Regions from separate parts of the Homo sapiens genome. Here regions 2, 3, 4, 5, 6 and 7 are each linked to region 1. Evidence: fine-mapped expression QTL. A gene starts in region 1. Each other region holds a variant in brackets. All regions are shown on one strand. Distances are between the middles of the regions. Region 1 holds the start of KANK1 (KN motif and ankyrin repeat domains 1). Region 2 overlaps DOCK8 (dedicator of cytokinesis 8). Region 3 overlaps KANK1 (KN motif and ankyrin repeat domains 1). Region 4 overlaps KANK1 (KN motif and ankyrin repeat domains 1). Region 5 overlaps KANK1 (KN motif and ankyrin repeat domains 1). Region 6 overlaps KANK1 (KN motif and ankyrin repeat domains 1). Region 7 overlaps KANK1 (KN motif and ankyrin repeat domains 1).

Region 1 (4,078 bases):
CACTGCGCCTGGCCGACGAGCACTTTTAAAATGCAGGAGTCTTCCTGCCTCTGATATCTCATCCCTTATCACCATGCAAACAATTCTCCTTTTCATAGAAGAGTAGACATTTGGGGCGGGGTGGTGGTGGTGGGGGATTTTAGAAAATATCTACTGCATCCAAATGCCCTACTCTACAGACGAAAAAGCAAGGCCCAGGAGGAGGAAAGAGTTTGCTTACTGCCACCCAGTGAGCTGGCAAAGGCGCTGAGATTCAAAATGAGCTTTCCTGCCTTCACATATCTTCCGGCTGCCCTTTGCCTATTCCCTAAACAGTCAGGAGCCATCAAGTTCAGGAATTTGCAGGTGTGCTTCGCTGTGAACTGTGGAAAAGCAGCGTCTTCTCCCCAGAGGCAAGCATGTCGCCTTGTGAAGTTTGATGGCTCTTCACTTGCACACTCACAAAAAAGACTGAGCGTGTGTAACGCCCTGCTGGATGTGTGCGGTGCTAGAGAGCTTGGGGGTGAGGGGAGGACTCTCTCCCTTAAGAAAATCAGTTGACTGCAGAGCTAACATTGTTTTTTGAGTAATACCTGGTTTTTATAAAGTCGTCCCTTCAGTTCCCAAGCTCCTCTTCTGTTTGTTCAAGCCACCTTCAATTTGAAAAAGACTGAAGTCACAGCTTCTCAATCCCTACTAATTTCTCATGGACCTACTGGATTGCTCCAAATCGAGTATTTGGGACTGAACTAGGAAGCCAGTTCAATCCTGAGCCCCCGAGGCAGGCGTTGGGTCTTCTGTGGAGTCCCCAGAGACCTGCAACCTTCTGAACACGCATCCTCCCCTTTCCGCCGAGGACTCTGTCCTGCAGCCGAGCCAGGGCGAATGCACGGAGGTCACAAGGGAGGTGCCCTTGGAGGCGGGAGGTTTCTGGCCGCCGGGGCGACCGTGCTGACGAGGCACCTGCAGGAAACAGAGCTCTGCACGCTCCGGTCCCCCTCACCCGGGGAGGGAGAGGAGGTACAGAGGCGCTGGGGGAGGACGTCGAGCAGGCCAGCCTCGTTGCCAGAACCCCCGCCCCAGCCGGAGATGGGAGCACCGCACCGTCTCACGGGGGCTGGATTTCTTCTCCCCTTGCGGGTGTGTGTGCGAGGATGGACGTGGTAAATACGGGTTGGCAGAAGGAGCGAACCGCGGTGGAGGAAGTTCTTCTGCTTAGTTCTCGCCGCGGCGAGGCCCGCGGGCCAGGCGCGGCGACGAAGGTGCACGAAGGTGCCCCGCGGGCCTGGTGGAGTTGCAGCGGCGCGCAGGCGCACTGAGGGCCGCCCGCGGCCGGCTCCGCGGTACAAAGAGCGCCCCCGCGGGGAGCCGGGCGTCCTCTGGGCGGAGGGAGCAGCCGGGGCTTCGCCGGCCCGCGCCGTTCTTCTCACGCGCCGCTCCGGGGCGCAGCCACAGCTGTCGCCCACCGCGGGTGAGAGGCTTGCTGGTCCGCCCCGGCTTCCCCGCCCCGGCGGCGGCCGTGCGGTTCGGGCTTTAATTCTGGCGCTTGCCAGCCGGGGCCGACTCCGCCCCCTGCGCCCCGCCCTTCCCCGAGCTCCGGGTCCGCGGCGGAGCGAGCGAGCGGCCGGCAGGTTGGGAGGAGCGGCCGAAGGTGAGTGACGCGGCGGGGCCGTGCCGCGCCCCGTGCCGCGGCGAGGTTGTCCCGGAGCGCGAGGCCCCTACCCCTGCCTCGGGCTGGCCCCGCGCGGAGCCGACTTGGCGCGCGCCGGGGTTGCGCGGCGGCCGTGGCGGTGGCGGAGGGCAGCCCCCGCGGGCTCCCGCTCGTGCGGGTGAACCCGGCGGCCTCGGGGCGGTCCTGGGGGGGGGTCCGAGAGGTGGCGTCGGCCCCGCGGCCGTCGGAGTTTGGCGCGCTCTGCAGCGGCGGCGCTCGGCCGGTCTGGAGGAGGGAGAGGCGCGCCGGGCACGGAGCAGCGAGAAAGTTCGGGCCGGGCCGGCCGGCGGGAGGGTGCGGGCGCCTGGCTACCCCGGCCCGGCGCTCTGTCCCTCGGATGCCTCTGGGCCCTTCCCTAGCCCGGGGCGGAACGGGGGACCCTCTCTGAAGCGGCTCTCCGTGGAGTTGGATGTTGCCCTTCGCGGGAGGGAGTGGCGGTCAAGACCCCTTTATCCTCGGCCCCAGAGGGGCAGGTGGCCTCGGGTCGCCCTCCGCCAACTCCGAGGTGGCTTCGGCCGGGGCTGGAGGGCGGGGAGGCGGGGGAGGGGCGTGGGCGCTGCGGCCTCTGGGGCGGCCCAACCCGGCGCGGGCAGCGTGGGTTTCCGAGGTCCCGCGGTTCCAGGTCGAGGGAAGGTGTAGGGGCCCTGAAGCGGGCTGGTCCCCGAATGTTGCGTTTTCTGTGCCGCTTTGGGCAACACGCAGTGGCGCTCGCGGCAGCCACGGCTCCTTGACCGTTCATCTCCTTCACCCGGGTCCCGTGGAACTTTCAGAGGCAACTGTTCTTGGTGGCTCTTGCGGGTCAGCACGAGCCGTGCTGCACGAGCGTGACCTAGTGAAGGCCTTGGGCGAGTTGGCGTTAACAATTTATGGCGTCCGCCAGCGCTCGCTTTCCGCACGTGGCCTCTGCGGAGGGTCAGCCCATCTTATTAAATAGTGGATTCTATTAGACCCTGATACCCGAGGCTAATAAGGAAGCTTAATCATCCAGATGTGTAATCGTGCAGTTCCTTTCCTCACCGTCATTGCCCCCCACCTCTGGAGCTGAATGGAAATGAGGGTCTGTTTGCTTATATTGAATTCCTGAGTTTATTCAAGTTCATTTTTAGGTGGCGTTAACAGCTAAGTAGCTGTTCATCTGCCAGTTTCTCCTTTCATCCAACTTTCTCTACTAAAATGTTGAGCACGTTTTATTTAAAAAAAATTGAAGTGTAATAAACATATAAATTTACTCTTCTAAGGTCAAAATTCAGTGGTTTTTAATATATCCGTAAAGTTATGAAATCATCACTACCATCTGATTCCATTTCGTTGCCCCCAAAAAGAACCCCTATACCGATTAGCAGTCATTCTTCCATCTCCCAGCCCTTCTCCCTCATTTTAAGGCAGCTACTTAGGAAGTTTTTCTAAGATAGAGACTGAGTGAGAAAACTGAGAGGTGATTAACTTTGATCCTTTTTCTGTTACTAGGTTTGGGGAAAGGTGCTGCTGAAGCAATGGAAGAAAAATTAAGTATTGGCTGTCCTATGGGGAGGTTAAAATGAATAAGGATGGAAGAGAAGCTGCCAGTAGAGGAATAATTGCCTCCTGTAGAGACCCACAAGTTGGGAATACATTTTATCCCCTTAGGGCACAGGGATGCTTTCTGGGCTCTAGACTTGCCTAGTCCATAAATCACTCTAGTCGAGGTTCTGCCTCAGCGAAAGTGAGTTCTGGGTGTGTGTGTGTGTGTGTGTGCGTGTGCGTGCGCGCTCGGCAGGGAATGTTAGAAGGAAAAAAGACTAGGCTTAAAAGTAATTTTTTAAAATATCCAAACTGGCCCCAAAGAAAGAAACCAAAAAACCACAGGCAAATGGCCACTGGAATTGATACATTCAAGACTAGTTTCATTTCATGAGTATCAGTTCACAAATAGTTCTGAGTTAATGTGTGCATACATTAACTTTTTATCCCAAGTGGGAGGAGGAGGATGGAAAAGGATCTAGTTGGGGGCAGTGCAAGGAACTGGGAAGAGGAATGGGATAATGGCCGAAAGGGGCAGTGCTTGTGGGAGCTGAGGACTGTTGAGATGGAATAACTATAGGGTGAGCAGATTCTGAAAGAGCAGAGTGGGTCTGTGAAAAGTTGGACACTTCACTCGGGCTTTTTGTTGGATAATGTGTGCATGTTTTAAAAATCATTTTTAGTAAGGAGAGTTGAAGCTATCCAAATTATGCAACATCCACTACACTTCTCACTCACCCTTCAATAAGAAAAGTCAACTTGTTTTCAAGTGTTTCGGGAAGTTTTAGGCCTGTTGCATGGGTGACAGCTTATGCCATCTTTTTTTTTTTTTTTTGGTAATTTAGAACATTGACATAGCGAGACTCCGTCTCTACAAAAAAAATAAAA
Region 2 (4,000 bases), 100 kb before region 1:
AAGAATCCTAAGGAAACATCAGAAGTCCCCAAGCATCCCCATCCCATGCACCCTGACCCCTGCCCTGCAGCGGATCTTCTGTCCCAGGACCCACCAGAATAGAATGGCAGAGGGACACTTCACTCCTCCTTGCCCTCCCTCTTCAGTATTTAGGATTCCAGGTTAGTCTGTTTTCAAAACTTTAAGTTGAGTGTATGAAAGATACCCTAGATCACCACTGCAGACCCAGGCTTAGCTACTCACATGCAGGCTATCTTCATTCCCGACAGGGAAATAAGGCAACCCAAGGTAGATATCTGCCTTCCCTGCAAAACTCATGTTTTTATTTTCTCTTTCTCTTTCCTTTCTTTTCTCTTGCTCACTATCTTTCTCCTTAAATTCTTCCCTTTTCTTTTAGTTACCATTTCTTTTTTTGTTTCTCTCCTTGACTCAAATGCCAAAGATCCCTAGACCAGGAGTCAAGAAGCCTGCATGCTGATTCCTGGGACACCATTAATTACTTCTGTGATTGGGAGCATCAGCCTTTGAGGCATTCATTTCCTCATCTGCAAAAAAACTAGGCTGGATTAGATTTATCCACTGATTCTGTGGTCTGTGTCTGCCAGTGACATCCACGGATGTTACTTAGCACCATTAGTGGCACTCAGGCCTCAGAAGGTCACTGACCCCCATTCGTGGTGATTTAATTCATTGATCCCAGCTCTCTAGATACAGGATGAACTTCATACCTTAAGCAAGTTGTATTCTTACAAAGTCGTCTGACTTTATCATTTTGCATAACCTATTATGTTTTCTGCCATCTAAAGATTTTGTGGCAATGGATATAACCTTAGTCTTTTTTAATAGTCACTAAAAATAGACAAATCCATTTCCTCAATTACTGTCTGTCACTTACAATGTGCCACTAAGCAAACACCCATCCCTTGGGTAGGGGCATTGTGGGTCTTGACCTTTGGGAAGGAAGTTTTTGGAATGCACCTTACTCCTCTTTTCAAAACATCACTCAAATTGTTTTTGAAATGTCTATTTTTTTTCTTTTGAGATGGAGTCTTACTCTGTTGCCCAGGCCAGAGTGCAGTGGCACAATTTTGGCTCACTGCAAACTCCGCCTCACAGGTTCAAGCGATTCTCCTTCCTCACCCTCCCGAGTAGCTGGGATTACAGGTGTGTGGCACCACTCCCCGCTAATTTTTGCATTTTTAGTAGAGACAGGGTTTCACCATGTTGGCCAGACTGGTCTTGAACTCTGGCCTCAAGTGATCTGCCTGCCTCTGCCTCCCGAAGTGCTGGGATTACAGGTGTGAGCCACCACACCCAGCCTGAAATGTCTGTCTTGAATGATGTCTCAAGGGACCTATGAAAGATACCCATAGTGGGGCCTTCTTTTAAGTGCCAATGTGTTGTGGGTTCAAGTTCCGATAGCCGGCTTGACCCGACACCTGTTAATGAGTAACCTAAGTGACAGGCACATGACCAAGTTCTAATCCCTTCAATGTGCTGGTGGCTCCACTGGTCCAAAGTCAGCCAGGAGTGCACATCGAAAGGTTATGGGATCTGGTAACTGTGCTTACATAGAAGTCATATGTTTTGGTTTTAAAATAATATATAATGGCATTTACTTATTTTAAGTGGATGTCTAACTATGAATTAATTCTGTAGGCAATATGTCCCACAACACATTGGCTTCTTGTAAAATGGCTGAAAATATGTGTTCATTTAAATTATATTGTTTAGTCTGTAATCCCAGCACTTTGGGAGGCCAAGGCGGGAGGATCACCTGAGGCCAGGAGTTCGAG[A/G]CCAGCTTGGCCAATATGGTTAAACCCCATCTCTACTAAAAATACAAAAAATTAGCTGGGCATGTTGATGTGCACCTGTAATCCCAGCTACTCGGGAGGCTGAGGCAAGAGAATCGCTTGAACCTGGGAGATGAAGGTTGCAGTGAGCCGAGATCATGCCACTGCACTCCAGTTCAACAGAGCAAGACTCTGTATCTCTCTCTCTCTCTCTCTCTCTCTCTCTCTCTCTATATATATATATATATATATATACATATATATATATGTGTATATATATATGTGTATATATATATATGTATATATATATATATGTGTATATATATATATGTGTATATATATATATATATAGTTTAAAAAACAAACTACTCTTGAAGTGAGTGAAGAGGAGGCATGTCTATCACAAGGATGATGCTTCATATTTCTGTGCTGGGGTGGGGGGTGATAATGATGAAATATTGAGGAGCTCAAGGTGCATCAGCGCCCCTTCCTTCCCCTATTTTGCCTTTAGAGGAGCTGCCTCTGAGTCTGGGTCTTTCAGTTGTTCAGCTTGCCTGGGGGAAGCAAGGGGTCTCTTCCAGACAGTCACCTTTTTCTGCTTTTCATTGCTTGCTTCATGGTTTATTTTTTAAAGGAAGATTTTTCCTAAAAACTCTTCTAGCTTTCTTTCTCTTTCTTCTCCATTTCCTCCTCTCTCAGTCTGGGACAAGCTCCTTGAGTTTTTTGCAGGTACTATGTACTTTGCTAAACAGTTTGATGCCTTTCTCTAGGGAACTGGTTCTACAACTTTCCAATGGGGCCTTTAATTAGAAACTACGAGAGAACACTTGTAGTATAAAAGTCATCTAGTCATATTCTATTAGTTTCATACAGGCTCATATGAGGTCAACTCCTTTCATTTAGTTTCTCGAACATAGTAGAGTTTTTGTAAAATTAATTATGTTACGGTGAAGATGTACCTCAAGATTTTCAGCACAGGCTTCCCATGGTATTAAAGATTTGATAAAGTGGAAATCGGGATAAGAATCCTCATTCTGGACAGCTACTAGGCTAGAATCACTAAGGGGAACAGTAATGAATGAAAATTTATTAGACCTCTCTGTAATGCAGAATTTACCATCTGTTGCACTATCCCATTAGTTTTTATTAAATTGATTGCCTTAACCTGGAGAGAAAGGATATTTTTGTGTCTGCCAACCTCAACTCCACTTACCTTGTAATAAATGTTTCATTCCTCTTTTCATTTTTCTTCCCAGCTGTCAGCCAAGCTCAGTAACCTTCCAACGCTCATTTCCATGAGGCTAGAGTTCCTGAGAATCCTCTGTAGCCATGAGCATTACCTCAATCTGAACCTTTTTTTTATGAATGCTGATACTGCTCCAACATCTCCTTGTCCTTCCATATCTTCCCAGGTAATAAAAGAATTATTTAACTAAAAGAATTATTCAAGCTATTTCATTTAACTAGCTCAGTTTAATCATGTATTTCCTATAAAGGTTAGTCTTATTAATTTGACAAAAAATCAAACAATTCAAACCAGATCAAGTATGCTACCCTGAAGTTACACCACTAGCTAAGAATTAACAATCTAAGTAATTGGTTTCTCCCCAGGCTCAAGGCTCCCTGATCAGGTTAAGTAAAGCCAAGAATCCAATAAGCCCTATGAAATTTAGAAACTCATAGAAAAGTCTCAAATCTTCCTTTGTCTGACATTAGCCAATTGTTATATTATGCAAATAGAGGATTCCAAAGTAAATAAGTTTTGGAAACCATGTATTCACCAGGTTTCTTTGCAGCAGGCCCTCTAAGAGGTTTTAACTTGTTCATGTCAATTGCAAATGCACGAGAAGCAGAAGAGGAAATGGGAGGAGGTGTGCATGATAAGCAGTGATTCCCCAAATGATTTAACATGGAAACCCCACCCCACCTCATACATTTTTTGAAATGTTACTCTGGAATAACTTTAAGAACATGCTGTTTGATAGTCACATTCCATTTATAGGGAACACATCAGTAGCTCAGAGCATCAGGCAAAATTTCTCATTATTAGGTTATATTTCTGTTGCATATTCCTTGATACTAGTACAAAAGTGAAGGCTTGTCTTACTAATTGAAAAAAAAATCTTAGCCATATATGCCATATGGCATGATCCAGATATTAGCTACATGACCATCTTACTGTGAACAGGGAAAGATCTGACTCACAA
Region 3 (4,078 bases), 130 kb after region 1:
CTTAATGTAGTCTGTCTGTCCATAGCATTGTATCCAGATTCCTGAACCTGGCATATGAGCTCTCAATAATTCATTCTGACTCATCTTTCCAGGCTTACTGTTTAAATATGTTTTATTTATTAATGTTTGAGACAGGGTCTCGCTTTGTCACCCAGGCTAGTGTGCAGTGGCATGTTCATAGCTCATTGCAGCCCTGAACTCCTAGACTCAAAGGGTGTTCCTGCCTTAGCCTCCCAAGTAGCTGAGATTACAAGCACATGCCACCACACCTGGCTAAGTTTTTATTTTTAGTAGGGACAGGGTCTCCTTATGTTGCCCAGGCTGGGCCCAACTCCTAGCTTCAAGTGATCCTCTGGCCTCAGCCTCCCACAGTGCTGGGATTATAGGCATGAGCCACTGCACTGAGCCATAAATAGATGCAAGTCAAAATCCAAGAAAACCTTGAAACAAATTGCCTTACATGGTAAGAAAGGTTTATCTTTTTCATAAGTTCAGAAATGAACTTCTGGGGTTAATTAATTTGTAATTGCCCAATTGCACACACAAAGCCAATTCACTGAGACTGTGATATTGCAGTAAAGAAAGAGTTTAATGAATGCTAGGCCAGCAATGTGGAAAATGGAGTTATTATTCAAATCAATCTCCCCAAAGGCTCAGAGAGTTAGGGCTCTTCAAGGATAGTTTGGTGAGCGGAGGACTTAGGGAATGGGTGCTGCTGATTGGTTGAGGATGAAATCATAGGGATGTGCAAAATGGTCTAATCCTGTGCCACCTCACCTGCACTGAGTCCATCTCTGGACTTCCTTGGTTGAGTTATGAGTCCTGGCTCCCGGTGGGGTCACTCGGTTGCCTGAATGCAAAAGTCTGACAAGCATCTCAAAAGACTAATCTTAGGTTCTATAGTAGTGATGTTATCTATAGGAGCAATTGGGGAAGTCACAAACCTTGCAACCTCTGGCCACCTGACTTCTGAGCAGTAAGAGATTATAGAAAGTATGCTTACATGTTAGCAGAATTCAGGCCCCTCCCATTATTCTAGTCTTGTGGCCTTTATTAGTCTTACAAAGGCAGTTTCAGCACCTGAACAAGGAAGGGAATGAGTTTCAGGGAGGGACTGTTATCATCCTTGTTTCAAAGTTAAATTACAAACTAAATTTCTCCCGTGGTTATCTTAGCCCATGCCCAGGAATGAACCAGCCTGTGAGGCCAGAAGCAAGATGGAGTTGAACCATGCTAGATTTCTCTCAATGTCATCATTTTTGCAAAAGGACTTTCAGATTTAGTGGCCCACTGATATCATTAGGGGCCCAGGTTCTTATTGTCACTTCACTCTGCCATCCACTATGCACTGGTACATCCTGAGACTTGCTCTGCCTCTTGGCAAAATGGCTACAGAAGTGCCAGGCATCACATCTAGACAGGGCATCTTGTGGCTCTTGTAGGAGTAAGGAAACATTTCCAGACGCACCCTAGAGAACATCTTACATTTCACTGACCAAAAATGAGTCACATGGTCCTTTACAAACCAATCACAGGTAAAGGGAATGCCGTTATTATGGTAACCAGCATGGGGGAACAGGTGGAGAGTCAACCACCAGGACTACAGGGCTTCCTTTTCTCCCTTTGTATGTCCCTCTTCCATCCTGACCTCATGGTGACCCTAAAAAGTCTGTGCCTGCCTACCACCAAACCTGCTCTCTGCCCCTCTAGATTTTAGGTACCCAGCCCCCCAGGCCTATACCCGAGTTCGCTTTGCTCCATGGAACTTTCCTTGCGCACTCCCTGTTCTACCCCTTTGCCACCTGTGTGAAGGTCATATCTCTCTAGCTGGACCCTGAGGTCCTTTGGGGCATGCCTGCGCTGCTCTCTATTCCTTCATGTGCTTCGTAGAGAACCACAGACCCTGACTTTATTTGTGCAAACCTTTTCCCCAAAATGCTAAGACTAATACCACGCACAGATGGAAGTACTCTTACATCCTAGTCATATCAGCCCCTTGAGACTGGAGCTAGTCTTCAAAATGGAATAATAGTGTTCCCTTTTTATTATTAGAATAGTAAGAATTCTATATGAGTAGAATAAGAAAAAGTTAATGTGGCATTCACAATTTATTAATGTCCCTTCATCCATTTACCCACATTCCTTTTTATT[C/CT]TTTTTTTTTTTTTTTTTTTTTTGAGACGGAGTCTTACTCTGTTGCCCAGGCTGGAGTGCAGTGGCACGATCTCAGCTCACTGCAACCTCTGCTTCCCGGGTTCAGGTGATTCTCCTGTCTCAGCCTCCCGAGTAGCTGGCGGTACAGGTGCACACCACTTTAGTAGAGACAGGTTTCACTTTATTGGTCAGACTGGTCTTGAACTCCTGGCCTCAGGTGATCCACCTGCATCAGCCTCCCAAAGTGCTGGGATTACAGGTGTGAGCCACCGTGCCTGGCTTTATTCCTTCTTAATGAGGCACAAACTCAGTTTCTGCGTGGTACATATAGCCTTTAGATTTTCATAGTTTTACTGTTTTTCTGATATTCTCAGACAAATAAATGGTTGTACATCAGAATTATTGGAGGAGCTTTCAAACAATATGCCTATCCAAGTATCAATTAAAGATTCAGTTTCAGTTGGCCTGGGTTAGGGCCTAGGGTGTTTTTGTAAAAGTTCTCAGGGATTCTAGTGGCGGCCAGGTTGAGAGCTCTGCTCTTAGATCTTTATATGCAGAACTCTCCTGGCTGAGAATTATCAGAATAATTTCAAACTTTTCAGAGCTCTTATCCAGACTGCTGCCATATATTACTGCTTCTCATATTAGCACTGCTGATCATGCAGGGTATGTCCTGGTTTCTTTTGTGTTTGATGGCTAAATATCCACCTTCCCTTTTATCTTTTTCCTGCCTGGATTGTAAACATCTCATTTCTCTTCTGTTCCACAGCATTCAGGACAATATTAAAGAGATCATGGAGGCTCAGTCAGTTCCCATCAACAGAGTCCGAAACGTTGTCCACTTCATAACTTGCTGGGCATTCTGTCCTGTACACCTTTAAACAACCTTCCTGGCTGGGTGCGGTGGCTCACACCTGTAATCCCAACACTTTGGGAGGCCAAGGCAGGCGGATCACGAGGTCAGGAGTTCGAGACCAGTCTGGCCAACATAATGAAACCCCATATCTACTAAAAATACAAAAAATTAGCCAGATATGGTGGTGTGTGCTTGTAATCCCAGCTACTCAGGAGGCTGAGGCAGGAGAATCGCATGAACCCGGGAGGTGGAGGTTGCAGTGAGCCGAGATTGCCATTGGACTCCAGCCAGGCGACAGCGCGAGACTCCGTCTCAAAATAAAAACATAAACAAAACAGAAACCCTTCCTTTAGGCCCAGAGAGCCAACCTTTCCCTCAGAGACTGTTTTTAAACCAAGCCACTTTAGACTTTGCCAGTCCTTCTGTAGTCCCCTATTCAAAACTTTGTTTATACCTTTCAGGAATATTTTATCTAGTACTTTATTGATTTCATCCAGTTATGTGCCCCTTCTCTCCATTTTTTGACAGTTTCTACTTTATTCCACTCCTCCAACAACTCCTTAATTTCTGCTGTATCAGCAGAGCCTCTCCTAGGTAATTGGAAGAGTTGTCCTTCTCTCAACCCTATTCTTTCTCAAGTTTGCTATTCCCAGGTCTTCTGTTGCCTTCAAACACTACCAAGTAGTCTCATTATCTATTCACAATAATGATGTGAAAGCTTTTGTTCCAGCATTTGTTGAATGTTCATTTTTTCTCTGGCCTTTCATCATCTGTGACAGTACTTTGTTTAGAAAATGGAGGGTAGGGTGGCACTTGTATAGCCCATTTTGTATGGTTCAACATTCATTTCATTGTGACTAATGATGACTGATAGCTGATGTCATAAGTAGTGTTTCTTGCAGCAAAGTTTCATAAATTTTAGCATGCATCACAATCACTTGGGGTACTTAACTCAAGTACGTATTGCTGGGACTTACCTTCAGGGATATCTAAGTCACCAAGTCTGGGGTGAAGCCTGAGAATTTGTATTTCTGTTAAGTTCCCAGATGATGCTAATGCTTTATCTGGGGA
Region 4 (4,078 bases), 150 kb after region 1:
AAAGGGATGTGCTTGTCCTAGCAGGAGAGCCTGTGACAATAAAAAAGCAGAGAATGTTCTGAGTCTCCTGTATTAAAAAGGGAAAAGCTTAAGTGAGGTTTATTTCCACTAAAGGATAGCAACATAAGGCAGCTTGACCTTTAGTGTGACTGGAGCACCGTAAATGCTACTTCTACTTTTTTCCTTTTTTTTTATTGTGGTGAAAAACACATAGCATAGATTTGCCCTCTGAATGTTTAAGTGTACACTTCATTATTGTTAACTGTATGCACAATGCCATGACAGATCTCTAGAACTTTTCCATTTCACATGACTAAAATGCTGTGCTCATCAAACAACTCTGTTTCCCCCTGTGCCAGCCGCTGGCACCAACCTTTCTACTTTCTGTTTCTATGACTTTAATTACATGTATGTGTCATAGAAATTTGGCTTTTTGTGATTGGCTTATTTCACTTAGCATAGTGTCTTCAAGTTTCCATTCTATTCATGTTGTAGCATGTGATAGAATTTCCTTTTTTGTAGGCTAGATAATAGTCCATTGTATGCATATACCACATTTTCCTTAGGCATTCATCTGTTAATGGACTTTTAGGTTGCTTCTGCATGTTGGTCATTGTGAATAATTCTGTAGTGAACATGGGGATGCAAATGTCTCTTCGAGTTCCTGTTTTTAGTTCTTTTGGGCATATACCCAGAAGTAGGGTTCTTGAATCTCATGGTAGTTCTATTTCTTATTTTTTTGAGGAACCTCTATACTGTTTTCTGTAGCAGCTGCACCATTTTACAGTTTCACCAACAACTCTCACCAATGTAGGGTTCCAGTTTCTCTACATGCTACCGATGCTTTGTTTTTTTGTTGTTGTTTGTTCTTGTTTTTTTTTAATAGTGGCCATCCTAATGAGTATGAGGTGATACTGTGGTTTTGATTTGGTTCTGCCTTTTTAAACTCCAAATTCAGTCTCTGGTTACAGCTTTTCCCATAACCATTTTCAGGTGAGGTGCGTATGCTGCGTTGGTAACATAAATTTAACATTGTGAGAGCTTTTATCAGGCAGCAAATTGTAAAGCCCCTTCTAGGTCAGACAGTTGACCTCTGTAAAGCTTAAGTTAGGAACTTTTATGTTCTTAATAAAACACAAGAAAATATGGGAAATTTCCATTTGGCATGAGCCTTTCTGTTTTCTTGGTGGTGGTGGTGTGGGGGTGGTATAGGCTCTCCCTAAATTGCCCAGGCTGGAATGCAGTGGCTCTTCACAGGTGCAATCATAGCTCACTACAGCCTCGAACTCCTGTCTCAGCCTCACAAGTACTGGGACTACAGGCATGAACCACCATACCCAGTTCCATTCTGCTTTAAACAGTGGAAAAAATACATGTATTTTTTAAATGGAAGGGTTGGTTATATCTTCAATGTGAAATCCTCTATGTGAAATCTAAATAAACTATTCCTGGAATGTCCAGTGTCCTTTCCCCGTGATGATAAACAAAGCCCAGAGCTGCCTCTCTTTAAAGATAGTAAGAAGCCTATGCATAAACAAAACACTTAAAAATAAGATCATTTATTTTATTTTACTCATCCGCTTAAACCCATCAATGACTTTTAACTTAGAAGAAAACCTAGTCTTCCTACTATGACCAACAGGACTAAGCAAATCTCATAACCTAGCCTCTGCTTACCTCTCACTTCAGCCCAACCTACTCTTTCCCTCTCTTAAAAACTCAGTAGCTGAAATATATGGAGCTCTTTCTGGCCCCGAGCCTCCAGAC[C/A]TTTTAAAGAAAAAAAAAGATTGTAATTTTGATGAAGACCGCATTGTCAATTTTTATTTCTATGGCTCTTACTTTTGGTATTATGTCTAGACCTCTCTAAGCCCTAGGTCTTAAAGATCTTCTAGGTTTTCTTAAGTTTTATAGTTTTTTTTTTAATTTTAGATTTAAGATTCATTTGGAATTAACTTTTGTATAAGACAGACGGTTAAGAAGATTCATTATTTTGACTATAGATACCAGATTGCTGTAGCACTGTTTGTTGAAAAGACTTTCCTTCCTTTTCTGAAAGAGTTTTTCTTTTCTGAAATGCCTTTGTCAAAAATCGCATAGGCACATCTGTGTGGGTCTATTTCTGGGCTGTATGCTGTTCCTGGGACCATTTTTACCTTCCACCTTTCCCCTAGTTAACTCCTACTTATCCTTCAGGTCTTAGTTTCAATGTTGTTTCCGTGGAAAGACCCTTAAGGACCACCCATTCCTATACATCTGCATACCCTCAACTTCAGTCCTAAGGAAGGGTACCTCTGTTATTCTCACTCAACACCTGTTTTTTTCTCCTTCGTAGCATTTAGCATAATACGTTTATAACTTTTTTTGTTTGTGCACATATAGTTCGTGCCTATAAGCCTCAAAAAGGCAAGAACTGAGTTTATTTTGTTCACCACTGTAGTGCCCAGCACTGTGCCTATTACATGCTGAGTTCTCAGTCAATATTTTTGAATAAATGAGTGAAACAAAGTTAGGCTTCCTGGGGGATGTTTTCTAAATCCCTAGGTATCATTTTCTTAAAATTAGAGGATATTCTTGGCTCTTGGAGCCTTAGGGCATAATTTTTTTCCCAGTTAACCCATCTTTGAAGATAGGGATTTTGAGAACTTTTGGCCTACCTCAGGGTCACCTAGCGGGTTATCAAAATGCAGATTGCAGGGCCCCAAACCCAGAGTTCCTGCTTCAGTAGGTCTGGGATGGGCCCCAAAATTTGGATTTCTAATAAGTTCCCAGAAAATAATGCTGATGCTGCTGTTCTGGGAACCCACTTTGAGAACTGTATTAGTCTGTTCTTGTACTGCTATGAAGAACTACCTGAGACTGGGTAATTTATAAAGAAAAAAGGCTTAATCGACTCACAGTTCCACAGGCTGTAAAGAAGCATGGCTGGGAAGCGTCAGGAAACTTACAGTCATGGTGGATGGCGAAGGGGAAGGTGGCACGTCCTATGTGGTGGGAGCAGGAGAAAAAGAGGGAAGAAGGTAATGCTATGCACTTTCAAACAACCAGTTCTCGGGGGAAGTCCGCCCCCATGATCTAATCACTTCCCACCAGGCCCCTCTTCCAGCACGGAGGATTATAACTCATAAGATTTGGGTGGGGACACAAATCCAAACCGTATCAAGCACTAGTGTTTTAACGTTAAGAATCTGAAGAGGCCCGAGTCACTGAGCCGCCACTGCCAAGGACTCATCTCCCCCTTCTCCCGCCACCGCCCGCTTTTGCAGCCATTTCCACTGAGGAAAAACAATCGTATGTCCACAGTCCAGAACCTCCACTCTTTCCACCCCTTTGCTGATACAAGTAAGGGTGATACCTGTCCTGCTGGCACTGAGGATTATATCCATATAAGAATTCATCCAACAGAGAAATGGCAGGAAGACCCTTACTACTGTCCAAGGGACTGCTGATGATTATGATAAAAAGAAACCAATGAAGGCATTTAAAAAGAAATTTGCCTGCAATGATACTGTAATTGAGCATCCAGAATATGGAGGTCATTCAGCTACAGGGTGACCAGCACAAGAACATGTGCCAGTTCCTCTTAGAGATTGGAATGGCTAAGGACAACCAGCTAAATGTTCATGGGTTTTAACTGCTGTGGCTCGCTGAAGCTTGAATGAGGTTTTCCTTGCAATGAGTAGAATTTCCTTTCTGTCCCTTGTCACAAGTTTAAAAACCTCACAGCTTTGTATAATGTAACCATTTGTGGTCTGCTTTTAACTTGACCTAGTGTAATTCCTTCATGCAGTAAACTTGAAAGAGCCATGCTGTCTAGTCTTGAAGTCCCTCATTTAAACAGAGGTCAAGCAGTAGGCGCCTGGCAGTGTCAAGTCTGAAACAAAGCAATACTGTCATGTTTCAGCCACACCTAGACCCCTAAGATCATAGACAACTACGTCTGGCCAGAAGCTCCTCCGCTCTCCCTCTGCAGAGTTCCCTGCCCTAAGAGACTGTCACCACCCGAACAATCCTCGGTGAATCTAAGAGGAGAGGATGGGGTAAGGCAGCAACAGCAACTCTACCACTGGAAGGGAGCCTT
Region 5 (4,078 bases), 190 kb after region 1:
CCAAGCTCATTCTCTTCTGTGCATGCATGATTGATTTGGGCTGTATTTCAGCAACAACTTTTAAAATGAGACAGTGGACATTAGAGAGCAGCATAGTTGGGGTTGCACTTAGGAGCCCATGGCATTTTGGCTGTTTTGAGACAGATTTGGGGTAAAGAGTTGCTGCATCTTGTAGTTGGCACTGAACACTGGAGAAGAGGGCCACTGTATAAACCGCAAGGCCCCTGTTACCATCACATGCCTCCCTAGCACAATGTGCCCTTTATTAAGACAGGCCGTTCCACTACTGAGAATAGTAACCCTTTCCGCTGTCTTCCCCTCACTCTTACGTGCAGCCTGGCTTCTGGCCTCTTAACCCATGCCCAGAGTAGAATTGGCAATACCCAGGAGGGACACTGCACTGGGGATTGTTAGGTCATGCCAGTTAGGATGCAGCTGGAAAGGTGCTGCTGAGTGGGACGTGCAGAGGGGAAGACTGCAGGCTCTGTCTGCCTGAGCTCATCTGGTCTGACACCTGCCGTGATTCATTTTTCTTCATGCCATGTTAAGAAATTTTGTATCAAGTCTAGTCGACAGTTACTCATAGCCTGGAAGCAACTTTGGAAATCAGAGTTCCACTGACCCCCCTCATTTTAAGGGTATGAATCACATCACTGCATTGTATGATTCCAGGGCTCTCTTGCCCATGGCTCGTGCATGAACTAGGAAGTGATCATAGTTCCTGTTCTTGTTTTATGAAAACAATAGTATACCTTCCCCCAACCTAGGCAGGCCATTCAGGACGACTACCCTGGAGGTGCTCTGGGTGGCTTAAAGCACCGTCTTTGCACAGTGTGTTAGAGAGCACTGTGCCCTGAGGACTTCGGGAGAGCTGCAGAATGAGTGTTCAGAATAATCGGCACTCACCTTTGCCCTCATGTTGTGAGATGGAGATATTTTAACCTGGCCATAATATGCTTTAAAAGTTGGGGGGTGTTTGTCTGCTTTTGCTTTTATTTCCTTCCTGTGCTGGACTGGGACTCCCCCTTATCTAACTGGTACATACCACTCTGCCCAAGCAGTGCGTGTGCACACACACATCCCCTACAGCTCCCTGCTGGCATCTCCTTCATACACTCTTAAGAAGAAGAAACCAATGTAGAACTCAAGATTTTAGCAGACTTACTTGGTCTTGAACAAGTATCACAAATACCTTAAACCCTGACTTCGTGGGGGGGGGGGCAAGGTATAGAGGAGGAAGGGTTCTGGATCCTCTCTGGGGGGCCAGGGTTGTGTTCTTCTCCAGACAACAGAGGGTGATCCAGTACCACTAGTAGTGACAATAGAACCCACCCATTGTTCTAAGTGACAACACACTGATGCAGGTACTATTATTTTCTCAAACAATTGGAATATAGTCTAATTTGCCGACAGCTGCAAAGCAGCAGAGCCAGGATTCAAACCCAGGCAGTCTGGCCCCAGAGTGCCTGCTTCAAATCACTACATCTCTTCCTCTGTTATACTTATTCATCAGTAGATGCCTAGATGTGGGGCTTTACACTTCAGCAGATACTAAGAGGGCCATGTACCAAGCGCCAAGTACTGAGGAATACAAACATAAATACTGCTTGAGGGCCAGGCGCGGTGGCTCATGCCTGTAATCCCAGCACTTTGGGAAGCCCGGCT[C/CA]ACGAGGCCAGGAGATCGAGACCATCCTGGCTAACATGGTGAAACGCCGTCTCTACTAAAAATACAAAAAATTAGCCGGGCGTGGTGGCGGGCGCCTGTAGTCCCAGCTACTCGGGAGGCTGAGGCAGGAGAATGGCGTGAACCCGGGAGGCGGAGTTTGCAGGGAGCCGAGATCACGCCACTGCACTCCAGCCTGGGTGACAGAGCGAGACTCCGTCTCAAAAAAAAAAAAAAAACTGCTTGACTTCTGCCTCCCCTAGACACTTAGAGTCTGGTAGAGAAACACAGGCATGTGCTTGCTAACTGTAACACAGTTCCGCGTATATAGGCAAAGTGACTTAGGAAACAAGAGGGAAGAAGGGGACCAGTTATTCCCAGGACAGAGCAGTTGAGGGTAAGTAGGGCTTTACAAAAATGAGGTATCTGGGTTGGGCCCTTTAGGACAATGCAGCTGATTTTGACAGATGGGAGAGTGTGGGGAAGGGTGTGCTGGGTAGAGGGGATAGAATGAGCAAAGATAGATAAGCTTGAAAATTTCTCAGTACGTTGAGGTTTGGGGTGGGGAGGAACCTGGGAGGTGCTGGATTGGGGCTAAATTGTTGACATTTCGTGCCACAGAAAAGAGCTTTTAGGCTTTCTTCTTTAAAGTGGAGCTCCTGGCACATCACTTTGCAAGGATAGTGATTGAGAAGTTGTAGACGTTTCCAGGAATACCTGAAACAAATGTAAAATTTCTCAAATAATATGTAATACAGGAAAGCAAAGCCATCTGCCCCTGAAAACAGGCTGCATATTTGCAGTATGAGTAACAGCAGAGTCTGGGCTGTGCTCCCTAGTGGCAGGCTGACTGCACTCGTGCACCCTAAGGACATTGATGCACAGATGAAGAAAGGAAAGACAGAAATAAAATTTATTTTTAAATAATTTTAATCGTACATAAAAAGAGCTCTCATGTCTTCCTCACCCAGACTCAGATTTCCCAGTGGTTAACATTTTACCGTATTTGTTCCATCTGTGTGTGTGTGTGTGTGTGTGTGTGTGTCTGTGTGTAGAAATGCAGTTGTCATGTCTTTTTGGCCTCCTTCCATCTGAAAAGTTCTCGTTTTTACCTTTTTTTCATGGCCATGATGGTTTTAAAAAGAGAGGCCTGACATTCTGTAGAATGTGTTTCAGGCAGGGTCCAGGCCATGCCTTCTTGGCAGGACAGTGCAAAAGTGATGCTCTGCTCTTCCCCATGCAGATACATGATGTCAACTTTGATCACCTGGTCGAGGTGGTTATTTGTCAGCTTTCTCATCATAGAGTCACCATTTTTTTTTATGATTGACATTTCATGCCACAGAAAAGAGCTTTTAGGCTTTATTCTTTAAAATGGAGCTCCTGGCACATGACTTTGCAAGGATAGTAATTGAGAAGTTGTAGACGTTTCCAGGAATATTTTCTGGTGAGATATTCTGAGACGACATCAGTATCTTAGTCTTTAGTAGGAAATCTCTACCCACTAGCCTTAGCTAGTGATTCCTACCTGAATCCGCCACTGTTCTAATAATTGGTCCATGGTGATTTTCTGTTGACATAATTCCTTGTATATATTAGTTGGTATTCCTACATATTTATTATAGCATGATGGACTCACAAGTAGATACCTATTCTCTGGATTGTAACTTGTTACTATCATTAATCATATTATTTTCATGCTCAAATTATCCTAGATTTGGCTAGTGGGGGTTCAAAAGAGTTTGAATCAAATATACCCTTGACACTGGCATTAAATAGCCAATCTGATGTGTGCTGACGATTGAGACTAATAACTGGTAGGCGGAGGGTGTTATCTGAGTTCTAGATATGTATTTATCTCAGACAGTATGGGTTACCTGCAACAAGATCTGTGGTAGGCAGGCCAACAGTAACACTCGGGACCCTAGAGGCAAGCCAACCTGAAATTCAGCTTGTCAGAGACCATCTGGTGGGTGGAAGTTTTGCGTTTTCAGAGTATATTGTTTAAGTTCCCCAGGCCTATCGTCTACCTTTAGCTTTCCCTGTTGGCCAATTCAGGCCCTGGTCAGATGCGGGTGGATAGGTACACAAAGCTGGAAACAGCGTGCTGCCCGCCTTTCTCTCCTGCCTCCAGAGACACTTGTTGGCTGTCAGGGTCGGTGTTGTCTTAGCCTCACAGGCATTTTCAGTCCTTGCTCTTCCCATCCTAGAGTTTCAAACACAGAGCGAGTCTGTGTTCTGCATCTCAACATGCTAAATCAGAACCTGGATTCCCTAAAATGTTGTCTCCTGTTTCTTCCTGCCCTCACTCATGCCATATCCGTCCTTCCCAGGTTAGATTTCTCATACTTCAGTGACCTTCAGAAAAGGAATCCCATCACTTTTCTCTGCGGTGAGTCATCCATTGGTTTAAAGA
Region 6 (4,078 bases), 72 kb after region 1:
CTCCACTTATATCTGTAAAGTTAAAGCACAGAGAAAGTTAGTACAGTATTTGCCTGAGGTCAGTCACGCAGTTGGTGACAAAAGCCACTATTCTTAGTACTTCATGAGACTTCTGTTTTATATAATAGATTACAGAGGCCAGGCACAGTGGCTCTTGCCTGTAATTCCAGCACTTTGGGAGACTGAGCTGGGAGGATCATTTGAGCCCAGGAGTTTGAGACCAGCTTGGGCAACATAGCAAGACCCTGTCTCTACAGGGAAAAAAAAAAAAAAAAAGCCAGGAATGGTGATGCACACCTGTGTTCCAGCTGCTCAGGAGACTGAGGTGGGAGGATTGCTTGAGCCTGGGAGGTTGAGGCTGCAGTTAGCCATGATCATGTCACTGCACTCCAGCCTGGGCAACAGAGCAAGACCCTGTCTCAAAAAAAATTAATTACAGAGATAGTGTTCTAGTTAATAGCAAGGAAAGAATGGCTTAAGCAATAAGCTTGGCCGGGCACAGTGGCTCATGCCTGTAATCCCAGCACTTTGGGAGGCCAAGGCGGGCCCGATCACTTGAGGTCAGGAGTTCAAGACCAGCCTGGTCAACATGGTGAAATCCTGTCTCTATTAAAAATACAAAAATTAGTCAGATGTAGTGGTGTATGCCTATAATCCCAGCCACTTGAGAGGCTGAGGCAGGAAGATCGCTTGAACCCAGTATGTGGAGGTTACAGTGAGCTGAGATTGTGCCACTGGACTCCAGCGTAGGCAACAGAGTGCAACTGCATCTCAAAACAAAAAACAATAAGTTTAATGAATGATTCCCAAAGTATGGTCTATGGACCAGCATCATTCACATCATCTGGGAACTTATTAGAAATTTTAAATTTTTAGGCCCTATCAGACCTACTGCTTACTCTGAAGGTGGGAGTCTAGGAATCTGTGTTTTTACAAAGCCCTCCACATACTTCTGATTCATGATAAAGTTTCAGTACCACTAGCTTCATACCATCCTTTTATAATTTTATGAGTTTAAATGCTCAGGGCTGCTGAGATAACATACCCTTGGGTCCTGAGTGTATACAAGGTAAGAAGCAGCTGGCAGCCTCCTTGAAGGCCCAGCATAGACAACCTTACTGGCCTCCCTTTTAATATACAGATAGGTAAGAAAGCAGAAGAGGAACCAATATTTGCTCTGCTAGGCACTGTGCCTATCTTTCCCACAGTTCCCTTGCATTTAGCCCTCATGCCAATCATATGCTTGTCATAGTGTGCTCCTTATATGTTTTGGGTACTTCATCATTTTCTAGTTGTAATCTCAGTCTTGAGAGCAGGCTCAGACGTTTGCTTCGATTCTTTCACTGGCAATCACGGAGACTTGACATTGTTTCATTTAGGGGACTGTACATTTCCTCATGGGGCATGCAGTTTGTGTTGGAGATACAGAAAGCTTCATCTTGAACTTGGTGCTTCTTCCTGGAACAGTAATTTTATTTCAGGTTTGTGGGAGAGGAAGAGGAGGGACCTTGTTTTTTTTTTGCAAACCATGACATTCCCTGTACGTACCATGTACCTGGTGCATGATAAATAACTGTTAAATAGATTTCTATACTATTAACAGAAAGCTTGTATTGTGTCCGGAATTGGTTCCTTCAGGTGGTTTCTTGGTCTCACTGACTTCAAGAATGAAGCCATAGACCCTCACGGTGAGTGTTACAGTTCTTAAAGATGGTGTGTCCGGAGTTTGTTCCTTCAGATGTTCAGATGAGTCCTTAGTTTCTTCCTTCCAGTGGGTTCATGGCCTCGCTGACTTGAGGAGTGAATCTGCAGACCTTTGCAGTGTTACAGGTCATGAAGGTAGTGCAGACCCAAAGACTGAGCAGCAGCAAGATTTATTGTGAAGAGCGAAAGAACAAAGCTTCCACAGCATGGAAGGGAACCCAAGCGGGTTGCCTCTGCTGGCTCTGGTGGCCAGATTTTATTCCCTTATTTGGCCCCGCCCACGTCCTGCTGATTGGTCCATTTTACAGAGTGCTGATTGGCCCATTTTACAGAGAGCTGATTGATCCATTTTACAGAGTGCTGATTGGTGTGTTATTACAGAGTGCTGATTGGTGCATTTACAAACCTTTAGCTAGACACAGAGTGCTGACTGGTGTGTTTACAAACCTTTAGACACAGAGCGCTGATTGGTGCGTTTTTACAGAGTGCTGATTGGCGCGCTTACAAACCTTTAGCTAGACACAGAGTGCTAATTGGTGTGTTTACAATCCTTTAACTAGACAGAAAAGTTCTCCAAGTCCGCACCCGACCCAGAAGCTCAGCCGGCTTCACCTCTCAGTATCATCTCCCAGATAGCTTGTGCCCACCCTTCAGACTTCTTTGTTTAAGGCAGTTATTCTCAAAATGTCCCTTGACCAGAAACAGCATCACTTGGAAACTTGGTAGAAGTACACATTCTCAAGTTCCACCCCAAACCTCTTGAATCAGAAATTCTGAGGGTAGGGCCCAGGAATTTATGTTTCAACAA[G/C]TCTTGCAGGTGATTTTGATTTATGCTAGCATTTGAGAACCACTGGCTTTACGCATGAGAAGTAGGATTTTAAAATTGTACTTTTTATTATAATTTTCTGGGAAAGTAAAGCTGTTTCACCTGTAAACTTTGGGAATAGGAGCACCCTGAAGCTCACAATGGCATCCTGCAAAGCCCCAAAGAGTGCTAGTTGTTGATCATTACCTGTGCACACATCATTCCCTCACTCAGAGCCCAGCTAGGAGGCCTCCTTTCACCTTGTAACCAGGTCACCCCTAGATGTGATCACTTCCTCCACAAGAACTGAGAGAGAAGAGAAGAACACCAGAGGATACTGAACTGGCCATACTGGGGCTTATGGTTTAAAGGGCAGAACTGAGCCAAATGAGGACTCCTCAGAAAATTGCTTTCTCGTTGGATCACCCCAGAAATAAATCAGTAAAAGCATTCACCTTTTGTTTTATTTGCTTCAAACAAAGTAGGAAACATTCTTCTTGCTTTATATATCTAGATACCAAGTAAGGAAGTATGATTTGGATTCTTGAGTCTCTTTATTTTATTTTTCAACTGTGTGTGTGTGTGTGTGTGTGTTTGCCTTTGCTAAGCCATGGAGGGTAAAAAATGAAATATATTAGCAACATTGTTGACATGGACCACAGACAATTAAATGTTTCATTTCTTATTAATCCTGAAAGAAAAAGCCTTTTTTTTTTGTTGGGCGGCAGGGAGGGGGTGCAGTCCTCTATACAAAAATCTTAAAAACTAAATATATCTATTCTAATTGTTTTCCCCTGGAACATCATCATAGTTTAGGAGTATATCTCAATGTTGATTTTAAAAAATAAATATGTAAACAGCTAGATTTATGCACTGTTAAAGCATCAGTGCAAGTTTTAGGAAAAAATCAAGCATGACAATTGAAAATAAAATAACCATTACTAAGTTGGACTCTTCTTTACCCTCAAGAAATTGTACTTGGATGTTTATGGGAGAAATTATTCCAAATCCTACCAGTTCTGTCAGAAAACTAATATTACTCTACATAATCATTTTCTCCCACCTCTGTATAATATTTAACTTTTATTTGAAATGTAGGCTCAAGCTATGCTAAAAATCCCATCTCGAAGATGACGAGCTTATCCATGGGGAGGGGATGGAGGGCAGAGCACTCTCATAACTCTAGGAATTTGACTGTTATATCTTGACTTAATAAATGTCTGCAGCTGAAAATAGGAAAAATTGACTATATGCATGTTTGAACACATAGACATAAAAAATGCCAGCTGAAGCAGAGTATTCCGCATGCAAGCCAAGAAAAATCGGGTTCAGTGAGGCACAGTTTGGCAGGGAAGGCACACTGAAGCTGCAGGGATGGGAGGTCTAGTAACTGGGGAGGTATTCAGTTGAGGGCTGGTGCCCTCCACGTAGCCTTCCCCGACCCACCCACCCTGGGTCTGCTTCCCTCTGCCCCCAGTGTGGGCTCCCGTAGCACAGCTGGGTATTAGCTTGGTAATGGGGAAAGGATGGTATTCAACTGGGAATCTTTGGCTTCTAGGAACAAAACAA
Region 7 (4,078 bases), 90 kb after region 1:
GGAAAATATGGATTATTATTCTTTTCCTTATTTTAACTCTGAAAATTAAAATTAATGACAAAAGTCAGATGTGCCCATTCTCACATATTCAAACAATAAAACATACAGACAAAAAAAGGATTCTTGTATCCCACTTTTTGATCCTATTCCTAATATAACCACTGCTGAGTTTATTGTATATACTTTCAGACATTTTTTATGCTTAGTGGATATATTAGATCTTTATACATTCCCCCCCCCCATATACTTGCATTTTTTTTTTTGACTAATGTCATAAACTTTGTTATACACCTCAGTGGGATTTAAAAACACCTGAAGCCTTTGTTTTTTGGCTGGTGGCAAAAAAACCAGAGTAACTTAGAGAAGTTACCCATTGATGTTTTCACAGGGCTTTAAACACGAAGACCTGATTTGTTTGTGTAAATCGTTGGATGTAATCTTACAGAGGACCAGGGCTTGAGCACCTTCAGAAACATGGTATCATCTGATCATGATGATTTCCATCCCACGACAGAGGAAGAAATGGAGACTCCAAAGGGACAGAAGTGAATTCTTCCAAATTTATGAAAATGAACACTTAGCTAAAATGTGTTCACTGGGTTATGACAAGTAACTGGACTTCTAGGGAATGGGATGGCAGGTGGGGTGCTATCAGTTTATAAAATTTTTTGTAACCTTGTCTCTTATTTCTGCTTCCCTCCCCCAGCCATGGGAACACAAGATAAATTTGGAGTAGGTGAGGGTGGAGAGCAAAGTGACTCCCTGGGCTGTGCCCTTCACACTGGTTTTAGAAAGCATGCAGCTGACTGCCCTGGGGTCTGATCTATGGTGCTGCGCTCGAGAGAACTGTAAGGTCTGCTGTAAGTGATGGGGGCTGTGGACTTATGCAGAAGTGCACTTGTTGGGGGTTTTCACAGTACCCACCTTATTATACTAGAGAGGCAGGTTTCATTGCTTAAGGGGACAATTTATGGCAATAGGCTTATCTCCTTGTTTTAGCTCTTTATGTTTTTCTGCCTTTAATAAAATGTGAAGTCACAAAGCAATTAAATAGTAGTGTAGTTTTCAGGCAGGAGGTGGAGAAAGGCTAACTAGGGGGAAAAGGCCAACATGATTGACAGAGGCTGGCTGGAGATTTACATTGAGAATAACTCGTTCTTCAAAACTTTCTTCATTTTCTGGTGAGAATTAGGGACAAATCATATACCAGAAGGATGGATGATTAAAAATGTAGGAGTTATGATTTCTTTTTGACTTTGTAAGTCTCTAAATCCTCCACCTTAACATAGAGTTCTCATTTCAAAATGGGAACCAGCCCTGCCAGAGACTAAAGTGAGCCAGAAATACTCTAAAGTCTTAAATAGTTAATAAGTGTGAGATTGTTTATATTTTGTAAAATGTCTTAAGATACAATGAAATGGAGAATCCCTGAGTGTTTTTTTGATTTCCTAAACTCTGATCCACAATTATAGATGTGTCTGAAGGTTCAAAAATATTGAACGTGATTTCAGTTGTTTCTAGAATTTAAAAAAATTAATAATTTTTAATAATGACACTTTAAATGAGGAGAAGGCTTTTAAAACCAA[A/G]TATAAAAATCTGGAGAGTTCAGATTCCCTGTCTCTCCTCTTTCAACCTTTAATGTATAAAACAAATCCTTTTGATTCAGCCACTGTGTATTGATAATGGCTTATTTATTACAATCAGAGGAATTAAACAAAGATATGTAGATACTTTGTCATCTTTTCTTATTATAGAAACAGTTTGATTTTAAGAATTTTTATTCAGAACGCAGATTCGAAAAGAAAAAAAAGAATTTTTAGAAAAGTTGCCTTTTAATTTAAATTTCTTGTTTTGTCCTAATAATCACATTGAAATAGCCAAAACAAATAATATAAATTAAAATGCAACGATGGCCCGGCATGGTGGCACATGACTGTAGTCCCAGCTACTCAGGAAGCTAAGGCCAGCAGATTGCTTGAGCCCAGGAGTTCAAGACCAGTTGGGGCAACATGGTGAGACCCTGTCTCTACTTTTAAAATGTGGTGATTGGTACCTGTTGAGAGAAGGGTTAACTGAAAGTTATTCACATGGCCCAGAAAGTGGCTGAAAAGTGCTCTTTCTGGTGTGAATTTCTCTTGCTGTGAAAGCACTCTGAAGGGGAGACCTAATGCCATTGCAGGAGCACTTCAGCTCCAAACTTGAGCGTTGCAATCAGAACAAGAACCCGAGGAAAAGCCTGCAAAATGAGCCTGCTGCGATATAGGGTGTGCTTTTGGACAGTTATACATAAGAATTTTTTTCTTTTTTCTTTTTTCTTTTGTTTGAGACAGTGTCTCACTCTGTTGCCCAGGCTAGAGAGCAGTGGCGTGATCATTGCTTACTGAAGCCTCAAATTCCTGGGCTCAAGCAGTCCTCCCACCTCAGTCTCCTGAGTAGCTGGGACTGCAGGAATGCACCACCACATCTGGCTAATTTATTTTTTGTAGAGGTGAAGTCTTGCTTTGTTGCCCAGGTTGGTCTCAAACTCCTGGACTCAGGTGATCCTCCTGCATGGACCTCCCAAAGTGCTGGGATTATAGGCATGAGCCACTGTGCCCAGCCTCATGAGAAGATTTATGATGATAGATAGAAGAATTATTAATTTCCACAGTTTGACAAATGATAACAAATAGCTTTTACAGTTTGAGCATCCCCTATCCCAAACGCTTGGGACTAGAAGTATTTCGGACTTTGGACTTTTTTGAATTTGGGAATATTTGCATATACATAATGAAATTCCTTGGGGATGAGACACAAGTCTAAATAACAAGTTCGTTTATGTTTCATATACACCTTATATACAAAGACTGAAGGTAACTTTATACAATATTTTTAATAATTTTGTGCATGAAATAAAGTTTTGACCGCATTTTGGCTGTAACCTGTCACATGAGGTCAGGTGTGAAATTTCCACTTTTGGTGTCATGTCAGCATTCAAAAAGTGTTGGATTTTGGAGCATTTCTATTTCAGATTTTTGGATTAAGGACGTTCAACTTGTATGCCAAATTAGTAAATATTTTTTGAGTTCCTACCCACATCCCTGTGTATGGGCTCTAGAAGCAGCCATGGTTTAGTTTCCTCACCTGTAAGGGAGGGTGTAGAACTTCTTTTAATGTACATCACTGTAGGTTAAGTTCGGGTAGAGAAAAGACTAAAGGCAACCAAGGCTGGCTGTCCTCTGAGCCCCTATGCTAAGCTGAACTAGGCTTTTGTTTCTGGCAATGGATCATTTTGCTGTCACGGAGCCAGTGATTATTTACCACCCCTGGTTTTGAGTAGGTTTCCTTTTCCCCTGGCAATAGCTCTTAGAGTGTTTCACAGAGAGGCAACGGGATTCAGAAGATGCCCGTTTACACTGGTACCACTGTCTCGTTATGTCATGGTAAAGTAATGAAGTCCACCATCATTACTTTACCAGTTCCCCATTGGTGTTTTGGTCTTCCCTATACATTTTTTTTAACTTTTATTTATTTTTAATGAGATGAAATTCACATAATATAACAATAGGCAGTTTAATAATTGACAATTCAGATGTATTTAGTACATTCATAATATTGTGTAGCTGCCACCTCTCTCTAGTTCCAAAACATTTTTGTCACTACAAAAGAAAACCCCGTACCCAGTAATCAGTAACACACTATTCTCTCCTCTCTCTCATCCCTGACAATCATTAATCTGCTTTCAGTCTCTATGAATTTACAATTCTAGATACCACATGTAAAATAAATGTTCTCATACAATATGTGACCTTTTGTGTCTGGCTTCTTTCACTTAGTATATTCATCCATGTTGTAATGTCTTAGCCATTTTATGGCTGAATAGTCCATGGTACGGATATATCATAATTTGTTTATCCATTCATCTGTTGATAGATTTTTGATTTTTTCCCCACCTTTTAATTCTTATGAATAAGGCTGCTATGAACATGGGTGTGTAAGTACTTGAGTCCCTGTTTTCAGTTCTTTTAGGTTCATACTTAGAGGTGTAATTGCTGGGTTATATGGCAAGTCTGTGTAACCTTTTTGCAAAACTGTTTTC

Evidence for each region.
Region 2: its variant is fine-mapped to the expression of KANK1 in whole blood (TOPMed, PIP above 0.99).
Region 3: its variant is fine-mapped to the expression of KANK1 in whole blood (INTERVAL, PIP above 0.99).
Region 4: its variant is fine-mapped to the expression of KANK1 in whole blood (TOPMed, PIP above 0.99).
Region 5: its variant is fine-mapped to the expression of KANK1 in whole blood (TOPMed, PIP above 0.99).
Region 6: its variant is fine-mapped to the expression of KANK1 in whole blood (TOPMed, PIP above 0.99).
Region 7: its variant is fine-mapped to the expression of KANK1 in whole blood (TOPMed, PIP above 0.99).

What each region holds. Positions count from the first base shown.
Region 1 is chr9:503,125-507,202 of GRCh38, forward strand. It overlaps KANK1 (KN motif and ankyrin repeat domains 1), which reads left to right and starts at 1,571. Exons shown (of 12, transcript NM_015158.5): 1 at 1,571-1,630. It overlaps LOC105375947 (translation initiation factor IF-2-like), which reads right to left and starts at 2,429. Exons shown (of 4, transcript XM_047424276.1): 1 at 2,136-2,429; 2 at 1,815-2,045; 3 at 573-1,697. The coding sequence starts at 2,429. The coding sequence ends at 876. RefSeq lists a silencer at 1,207-1,696.
Region 2 is chr9:401,869-405,868 of GRCh38, forward strand. DOCK8 (dedicator of cytokinesis 8) reads left to right here. Exons shown (of 48, transcript NM_203447.4): 27 at 3,050-3,205. Among named protein-coding and RNA genes, the nearest start is that of DOCK8-AS2, 66 kb to the right of the region's middle. The variant A/G (reference allele first, on the strand shown) is at 1,797.
Region 3 is chr9:633,543-637,620 of GRCh38, forward strand. All of the region lies in intron 1 of KANK1 (KN motif and ankyrin repeat domains 1), which reads left to right. Among named protein-coding and RNA genes, the nearest start is that of KANK1-AS1, 50 kb to the right of the region's middle. The variant C/CT (reference allele first, on the strand shown) is at 2,152.
Region 4 is chr9:656,696-660,773 of GRCh38, forward strand. All of the region lies in intron 1 of KANK1 (KN motif and ankyrin repeat domains 1), which reads left to right. It also overlaps the pseudogene EIF1P1. Among named protein-coding and RNA genes, the nearest start is that of KANK1-AS1, 27 kb to the right of the region's middle. The variant C/A (reference allele first, on the strand shown) is at 1,768.
Region 5 is chr9:694,399-698,476 of GRCh38, forward strand. The region is part of intron 2 of KANK1 (KN motif and ankyrin repeat domains 1); the gene reads left to right. Among named protein-coding and RNA genes, the nearest start is that of KANK1-AS1, 11 kb to the left of the region's middle. The variant C/CA (reference allele first, on the strand shown) is at 1,666.
Region 6 is chr9:575,250-579,327 of GRCh38, forward strand. The region is part of intron 1 of KANK1 (KN motif and ankyrin repeat domains 1); the gene reads left to right. Among named protein-coding and RNA genes, the nearest start is that of KANK1, 73 kb to the left of the region's middle. RefSeq lists an enhancer at 1-21. The variant G/C (reference allele first, on the strand shown) is at 2,513.
Region 7 is chr9:593,221-597,298 of GRCh38, forward strand. All of the region lies in intron 1 of KANK1 (KN motif and ankyrin repeat domains 1), which reads left to right. Among named protein-coding and RNA genes, the nearest start is that of KANK1-AS1, 90 kb to the right of the region's middle. The variant A/G (reference allele first, on the strand shown) is at 1,587.